Regions from separate parts of the Homo sapiens genome. Here all the other regions are linked to region 2. The links come from fine-mapping of genetic effects on gene expression. A gene starts in region 2. Each other region holds a variant in brackets. All regions are shown on one strand. Distances are from middle to middle.

Region 1 (2,759 bases), 110 kb after region 2:
TCAGCCTCCTGAGTAGCTGGGATTATAGGCATGCACCACCATGCCCGGCTAATTTTGTATTTTTAGTAGAGATGGGGTTTCTCCATGTTGGTCAGGCTGGTCTCGAACTCCCGAACTCAGGTGATCTGCCCGCCTCGGCCTCCCAAAGTGCTGGGATTACAGGCGTGAGCCACTGCTCCCGGCCCTTAATGTGTGGTTTTATTTATTTATTTATTTATTTATTTATTTATTTATTTATTTTTTGGGATGGAGTCTCGCTCTGTCGCCCAGGCTGGAGTGCAGTGGCGCAATCTCGGCTCACTGCAAGCTCTGCCTCCTGGTTTCACGCCATTCTCCTGCCTCAGCCTCCCGAGCAGCTGGGACTACAGGCGTCCACTACCACGCCCGGCTAATTTTTCTGTATTTTTGGTAGAGACGGGGTTTCACCGTGTTAGTCAGGATGGTCTCGATCTCCTGACCTCGTGATCCGCCCGCCTCGGCCTCCCAAAGTGCTGGGATTACAGGCGTGAGCCACCACGCCCGGCCGGTTTTAAAAAGTAAATGAGCCAGGCATAGTGGCCTATGCCTGTAGCCCCCAGGTACTCAGGAGGTTGAGGTGGGAGGATTGCTTGAGTCCCCGAGATTGAGGTTGCAGTGAGCAGAGACGGCGCTCCCTGGGTGAGAGGGAGACTCTGTCAAAAAAATAAAAAGTGGCGGGGCGCGGTGGCTCACGCCTGTAATCCCAACACTTTGGGAGGCCAAGGAGGGCGGATTACGAGGTCAGGAGATCGAGACCATCCTGGCTAACATGGTGAAACCCCGTCGCTACTAAAAATATAAAAAATTAGCCAGGCGTGGTGGCAGGCTCCTGTAGTCCCAGCTACTCGGGAGGCTGAGGCAGGAGAATGGCGTGAACCTGGGAGGTGGAGCTTACAGTGAGAGGAGATCGCGCCAGTGCACTCCATCCTGGGCGACAGGCGAGACTCTGTCTCAAAAAAAAAAGTAAATGGTTTTGTGTAATTACTCATGTAAATCAGTTTTAAATATTAAATGCCATATAAGCTTTTTAAAATTTGCTTTTAAAATTTTTCTATAATAGCTTTTTTGAGATATAGTTGATATACCATAAAATCGACCTTTTAAAATTGTACATTAAGTGTTTTTAGTATAGTCACATTGTTGTGTAAACATCACCACTATCTAATTCCAGAACATGTGATCATCCCAAGAAGAAACCCAGTACCCATTAGCAATCATTCCCCATTTTTCCTTCCTTCAGTCTGACAACCACTAATATACTTACTCTATGGATTTATCTATCCAGGATATTTCATTTAAATGAGCCATCCATGTAGTTTAATGGAACAAGGCTTTAAGAAGTTACTTGTAATCTGAGATTCTGTTCCATTACATCCTTTGCACTGGTTTTCATGTTACTTGAGTAGATCACTTTTCTAATCTGCAGAGAGACTTTTCCTGTTTGGTATTGGTGCAATAAATAAATCTGCTGACGTGTGTATGTTTCCTTGTTCTTGACCTTTGCTCTTCACATGTCTTAATAGTGTGTTCATGGTGTTGTGTAACCTGTTTTCTGGGCTCAGGTATCTGTTTGCAGCTAAGTAACTTTTATTCTTAGTTGGGCATTTTTACTTCTACTTAAAATAACAATAAAAAAACAGTTAATTCTGTTTCTAATTACTCCTAGTTTGTTTTAAGGTTCCTAGAAACCACATTTTTTTTTTTTTTTTTTTT[TTTTTTTTTTTTG/G]AGGCAGAGTCTTGCTCTGTGGCCCAGGCTGTGGTGCAGTGGCTCGATCTCGGCTCAGTGCAACCTCTGCCTCCTGGGTTCAAGTGATTCCCCTGCCTCAGCCTCCTGGGTAGCTGGGATTACAGGTGTGCACCACCACACCCAGCTAATTTTTGTATTTTTAGTAGAGATGGGGTTTTGCCACGTTGGCCAGGCTGATCTTGAACTCCTGACCTCAGGTGATCCACCCGCCTCAGCCTCCCAAAGTCCTGGGATTACAGGTGTGAGCCATTGTGCCTGGCTGAAACCACAATTTTAAAGAAATATATATATTATTATCTTCCAAAGCAGAGTTTGTGTCTTCTTAGATTATCTCTCTTGGGACAAATTTTACAACAGCAAATTGGTACCATCCTTATGCAAAAAATCCTTTTTCTGTCAAGGCTTTTCACCATTCTTTAGCTCTCACCTACCAACAATCATCTTCAGTGAGGACTTTGCCACTTGATTCACAGTCTGTATCAGTGCCCTCCAGTCTTCCAGGTGATTACACTGCCTGTCAATGTGGACAGTGTACCCTCTAGCCTGGCTTCCAGTATCTGTCACCTCCATTTTTCTTTATCGTCCATGCCAGAGCCAGGCCTTGGAGTTTGCCACCACCCAACCCTGAACTTCTCTTGAATTCTTGAACCCCCTATATTCTCTTCCACTTTGCTGGCACAATTCTGGCACTCCTTTCACCTCTCTCACCCTTTTCTGTTTTTGGCTTAGAGACTTTTTCTACCCTATTTTCCCAATTCTGTTCTGTTGAGAAGCCTGCCTTTGATCACCGCTCCATCTCTGTATACTACCTTTCTTTACCTTTGTCCACTCAACTTGAACTTCTGATCAGATCCCTACAGCCCTCTCACTAGTACTCTCAAAATCCTGTTCCCCTTGTCCTTTTTCATTTCTATTCTGGATGTTCCTAATCTCTAGTCACTCCATGTTGAGCACTGCTGGTGGAGGGTGGAAGGTTGGAAATCAGCACAGATTGG
Region 2 (2,759 bases):
TTTTAAATTAGCCAGGCATGGTGGTGTACACCTGTGGTCCTAGCTACTCCGGAGGCTGAGGTAGCAGGATTGCTTAAGCCCAGGAGTTTGAGGCTGCAGTAAGCTATGATCATGCCACTGCACTCCAGCCTGGCCTACAGAGGGAGACCCTGTCTCAAAAAATAAAACAACCTTTAAAGACATAAAATTTTCAAAGCAAAAGAACAAAATATAGAAAGTACCTCAGGTAAGATCATAAATAATGCTTTAAGAATAAATAGCCCGATAGAAAAATGTTTCTTCTATTGTTCTAGAAGAATTTGAAATGGTTTTCTTACCTCTCATTTGAACTGCCTAAAAGTTCAGAGCTATACACCTAAAGCCTTACAGAACAAAAGTCACAAAGATATAAGGAGCTTGCGACCAGTGACTAAAGGCCAATTACTAAAGGAAACACTGGAAACTTAGATAACACTAGGGCGCGCTAATTGCTCAATTATACTCACGTGAAATAAATTTTTTTTAAAGAAAATCATTGGACATGTGTTTGGGGGAGGAAGGAGGCGCTCTCCTTAGAAATGCAGCTCCAGACATCAATCACAACAATATCCCCTCATGAGGAGAGGAAACTCTCAGGTGTGCACTTCGCACTTGCTGGGTCTCTGAAGAATGCTCACTCTCACTTTTCCCACCTTTTCTAGCCGGCCCGTAGGTGACAGTGTTGACGGCACTGAACACAAACACTAGGATATGAGCACAAGAGTCCCTGATACACGTAGGATGAACTAGCGGGCAGTTCAGTAAAGACAGGCTGATGTGGGCGGACAGGAGTTACACAGCAAAAGGCAAAAGAAGGTAGACGCTAGAGAAGGCACTGTAAGGAAAAGCACTTGGAACCTTAAGAAGGAAAGCCATCTTCCTAAGGGGAGCAGTAGACATGACAGTCTGGGGATACAACGTGCGCCCTTCAAGAAAGGCGAGGAGTGGCTAAGGAAAAAAGGGGCTGTTCAACGTAACTGGGAAGAGGGAGTGAGAGCTCTGCAGGCAGGGTGGGGAAAATCTCACGGCGAGGCCCCGGGAAAATTGAGGGGAGCGACTAGGAACATCCTGGGGTTCAGGGATGAGAACTTGGGATATCACCGAAGGGGCGGGACAGAGAGGAAATCAAAGAGCAAGGCTTGGTCAAAAAGGTCAGAGGAGTGGAGGTGGGAGAGGGAAGAATGACCCTGAAGATTCAAGGTGATGGGCGGGAGACTGAGGGGAAATCGAGGCTCTTACCCGCGCCGCTCCCGGGCCTGTGAAAGCCCATGATCCGGTTGATGCGCTGTTCCGAGTTCATGAGCAGCTTTCTCCGACGCAGCTCCGCCCGACGCTGGGAAGCCGACAGACCTGAGCCCGCTGGGACCCCCGGCCTCTCCCCGCCGTCGGTAGCGACGGCCATCGACTCCATCCTCCCGTCCACAGTCTGGGAGGGGTGGCAGTGGCGGTGATGTTGGCCGCCGCTGCGAGGGCGATGACTAGAGGCCGGGCCGCAGGGCGCGCGTCCCCTTCCCACTATAGACCCGCCCCCGAGCGCGGTCCCGGAGCCTGTGAGCTAAGCACTCACGCACCGCCCCACGCGACCAAGCGCGAGGCTCTGGCCGCCATCTTGAGTGAGGGCAGCGCTGGACGCCCTCGTGCCTCCCCAACTCTTCTGGCCCTCACCCAACAGCCCCCTCTGCTGTTCACTCGGAGGTGAAGAAAACCAGCACCCAGGGCCGGGAGTGGTGGCTCACGCCTGTAATCCTAGCACTTTGGAAGGCCGAGGCGGGCGGATCACGAGGTCACGATTTCGAGAGTAGCCTGGCCAACATGGTGACCCCCTCCCCCCTCCCCCCACCCGTCTCTACTAAAAATACAAAAACTTAGCCGGGCGGGGTGGCGCGCGCCTGTAATCCCAGCTACTCGGGAGGCTGAGGCAGGAGAATCTCTTGGACCCAGGAGGCGGAGGTTGCAGTGAGCCGAGATCGCGCCACTGTTCTCCAGCCTGGGCTACAGAGCGAGACTCTGTCTCGAGAAAAAAAAAAAGAAAGAAAAGAAAACCGGGAGTGGGAAAGGGATGGCAGTAAGTAGGTCAGCCTAGATTTGGTGCCAGGAAGCAAAATGGAGGTTGCAGCGGCAGTCGCTTGTTTACAGACCCGCGGCCTCGCCTGTAGGCAATGGGAATACGTAACCCTGGGAGCCGCACTTAAAGGGAGCCTTACGCTGGGATTTGTTCTTGGTGCCTGTTCCTCATCCTTAACTTCTCTACGGCAAAGTATACGGCTGATGTGTTCCTAGGCTTTCCTCGCGTTTTGTGCGTTTTTATTCAAATTAGAATTTCCCATTGAAACCTTTCGTGCACATTCTATCTAAATTGCCAACACTCCCCATTCCCCTTCACCTTGTTTTTTCTCCTTGTCGTTCATGACCACCTCGCATGCTAAAGATGCTCCAGCCTGGGCGACAGAACGAGACTCCGTCTCAAAAAAAAAAAAGGAAAAGAAAAGAAAAAAACAAAAAGGCCGGGAGCGGTGGCTCACGTCTGTAATCCTAACTTTGGGAGGCCGAGGCAGGCGGATCACCTGAGGTCAGGAGTTCGAGACCAGCCTGGCCAATATGGCAAAACCCCGTCTCTACTAAAAATACAAAAATTAGCCTGACCTGGTGGCATGCACCTGTAATCCCAGCTACTTGGGAGGCTGAGGCAGGAGAATCGCTTGAACCTGGGAGGCAGAAATTGCAGTGAGCCGAGATCATGC
Region 3 (2,759 bases), 150 kb after region 2:
CTAGGACTAAAAGTGTGCGCCACCATGCCCAGCCAATTAAAATTTTTTTTTTTGTAGAGATGGGGTCTTGCCATGTTGTCTAGGCTGGTCTCGAACTCCTGGGTTCAAGCAATCCTCCTGCCTCGGCCTTCCAAAGTGCTGGGATTACAGGCATTAGCCACCATACCTGGCCCTGTTTTTCACTTTTTAAAAATGGGGCTACTAGAATTTCAAATGTGACTTGCACTATATTTCTAAAGAACAGACCAACATGTACCCTGAATCCCCCTGCCCTACATTTATCAGCTGGGTTAGGTTCACAGGTGAGGTTTTATTTATTTATTTTGTTTGTTTTTATTTTTGTTTTTTTTAAAGACAGACTCTTGCGCTGTCTCCCAGGCTGGAGTGCAGTGGCATGATCTTGGCTCACTGCAACCTCTGCCTCCCGGGTTCAAGCAATTCTCCTGCCTCAACCTCCCTTTAGTCCCTGTAGCTGGGATTACAGGTGTGCATCCCCACACCTGGCTAATTTTTTGTGTTTTTAGTAGAGATGAGGTTTCACCAGGTTGGCCAGGATGGTCTCAAACTCCTGACCTCAAATGATCCACCTGTCTTGGCCTCCCAAAGTGCTGGCATTACAGGTATAAGCCACCTGGCCCAGCCGACACAGGTGTGGTTTTAGAGTGAGGGGCAAGCCTGAGTCATTCTTCTGGATCACTGTGGTCCTGCTTTGGGCTGGCTGCAGGAGGAGGGAGAAGCTGTGGTGCCAAGTCCACGGCAGCTGGGCCATGGGGCTGACAGTTTCTTACCATGGCCAGGTGGGCTGGCCACCCAGATACCCCCTCAGCCCCAGGGCTGATTTCCTGCCAGCATCCCATGCTGATTCCACAGTTGAGGACGCTGAGCTCTTCCCATTCACAGCTGAGCTGCTGGAGCTGGGGCTGAGAGAACATCCACAGCCTGTTTTTCCAGGTTCCCAGGTGCCCTAACAGGGAGACCTCCCTCCACGGGCATTTTGGGCACACACACACTCCACCCCAAATTTACTTCCAATACCTTGTGCATTGTGGACTCAGAACATTGGATCTGGAGGCACCCTTGGGAA[C/A]CTACCGTCTACTGCTCTGGAGAGGAAATGGGTCAATTCTCTGTGGCAAACAACTAAGTCAGTGGCCCCAGAAGCTAAGATGCTTTGAGTCTTAATGTAACCTCTGTCCCTCACAGCCTTGTTCTGAGCCCTCAGAGGAGGTTCAAGACCCTCCCGATATAGCTTGATCCATCTTTGCATAGGCCAAACCCTCTATGAGGAATGCCCGTCATCCCTTTCTCCGATGCAGCTTCCCTTGGGCTAGCAACTATTTTTCATTAGGTCTCCAATGTCTGGAGGTTCTAGGGGGACAGGGGCCTGGTGACATGCACAGTATACAACCCAGCACACTGGCAGTGAGGTGTCCGGTCAAGACTACTTGTTGAATGAATCAATGAATCAATGAATTAATGGTGTCACTTCCTCAGAGAAACCCTTCCTGAACCCCTTCACCCCTAGACCAGCCCAGGCCTCCATGAAAACTCCCAGTTCCCTCACTGCCTGTGTGAGCCACCCCAAGCAAGGACAGCAGCTATATTCCCCACACTCTTTTCAGAGCCTGGCTCAGGGTAGGTGCTCAGAAAATCATGAATGAAAAACAAACTCAAGCAAAAATCTTCACTGACCTAGGGACACTCCCTGGAGGCTCCTCCCAAACTTTCCTACGGTCCCAGACAGGTGGTTGTAGCAGGTGGGGAGTGCAGCAGTCCTGCCTTGGATGCAGAGCTTTACCTCTTAGCACATCTTCGACTTTAGGTGCATCCCTCATCCTCTCAATTCCAGGGGAACATATTGAAGATCAAATGAAATACTGCCCTGAGGCTAGGGGCGGCTTACGCCTGTAGTCCCAGGACTTCAGGAGGCCGAGGAAGACGGATCACTTGGGCCCAGGAGTTTGAGACCAGCCTGGGCAACATGGGAAAACCCTGTCTCTACAAAAATTACCAAAATCAGCCAGGCATGGTGGCATGCACCTGTAGTCACAGCTACACGGAAGGCTGAGGTGGGAAGACAGCTTGAGCGCGGGATGTCAAGGCTGCAGTGAATCAAGATTGCAGCCTGGGTGACAGAGTGAAATCCTGTCTCAAATAATAATAATAATAATAATAATGAAAAATATAAATACTGCTCTGAAATTATAGCCCTTGGTGTGCACTGAACATCTTTATTATGATTCCTTAGGAGGTGGCAGCTGATCCCTTGGAAAACTCAGGGACCCCGTGGTTTTGCTGAGCCCATTGTCGGGTGTGTGTGTGGGACTCCCAGGGTTCCCTACCCCATCCAATGCAATGGAGCCTCACACCAGCCAGCACAGAAAACACTGCTTTATTAACTGCGTTTGCCAACACACGAGGAGTGCAAAGGGCTCCCTATGACACAAGCCCTGGTGGGGCCGGGGTCTGGAAGCCCCCATGAGTGAGCAGGACAGGATGGGGCTGGGAACTATGCAGCAGCGGCAACACAGAATCATGCAGGGCACAGCGGGCACTGGCCACACCCAGGTGACCATACATTCTATTGCTCGTTAAGGGTTGCGCACATGGACAATGTACAAAAAGGAGAAATAGGTCTTTGCGTTAATGAAAAATACATTTTTTCTCTACAAAGGAATCTTTTCTAATACAAGAAAATAAATATTGCAACATAAGCCAAAAATAATTTAAAATTGCTCTTTTCAATATATTTTCAATATTTC

Direction of the effects. Positions count from the first base shown, and alleles are read on the strand shown. Sizes are in standard deviations (SD) of each study's normalised expression. Not every link is listed here.
For the expression in prostate of the gene that starts at base 1,502 in region 2, A is the high allele of the variant in region 3 and C is the other (moderate effect, 0.68 SD a copy in GTEx).

The links. PIP is the estimated chance that this variant, and not a neighbour inherited with it, causes the effect.
Region 1: its variant is the best candidate, but not a certain one, in a credible set for the expression of CAMLG in whole blood (INTERVAL, PIP 0.63).
Region 3: its variant is the best candidate, but not a certain one, in a credible set for the expression of CAMLG in prostate (GTEx, PIP 0.53).

Annotation. Positions count from the first base shown.
Region 1 is chr5:134,625,283-134,628,041 of GRCh38, reverse strand. All of the region lies in intron 1 of SAR1B (secretion associated Ras related GTPase 1B), which reads left to right. Among named protein-coding and RNA genes, the nearest start is that of SAR1B, 6.2 kb to the left of the region's middle. RefSeq lists a cis regulatory region at 1,513-1,526 and an enhancer at 1,448-1,592. The variant TTTTTTTTTTTTG/G (reference allele first, on the strand shown) is at 1,732.
Region 2 is chr5:134,737,291-134,740,049 of GRCh38, reverse strand. CAMLG (calcium modulating ligand) reads right to left here and starts at 1,502. Exons shown (of 4, transcript NM_001745.4): 1 at 1,258-1,502. The coding sequence starts at 1,429. RefSeq lists an enhancer at 1,865-1,914.
Region 3 is chr5:134,582,842-134,585,600 of GRCh38, reverse strand. JADE2 (jade family PHD finger 2) reads right to left here. Exons shown (of 12, transcript NM_001388185.1): 12 at 2,374-2,759. Among named protein-coding and RNA genes, the nearest start is that of SAR1B, 49 kb to the left of the region's middle. The variant C/A (reference allele first, on the strand shown) is at 1,085.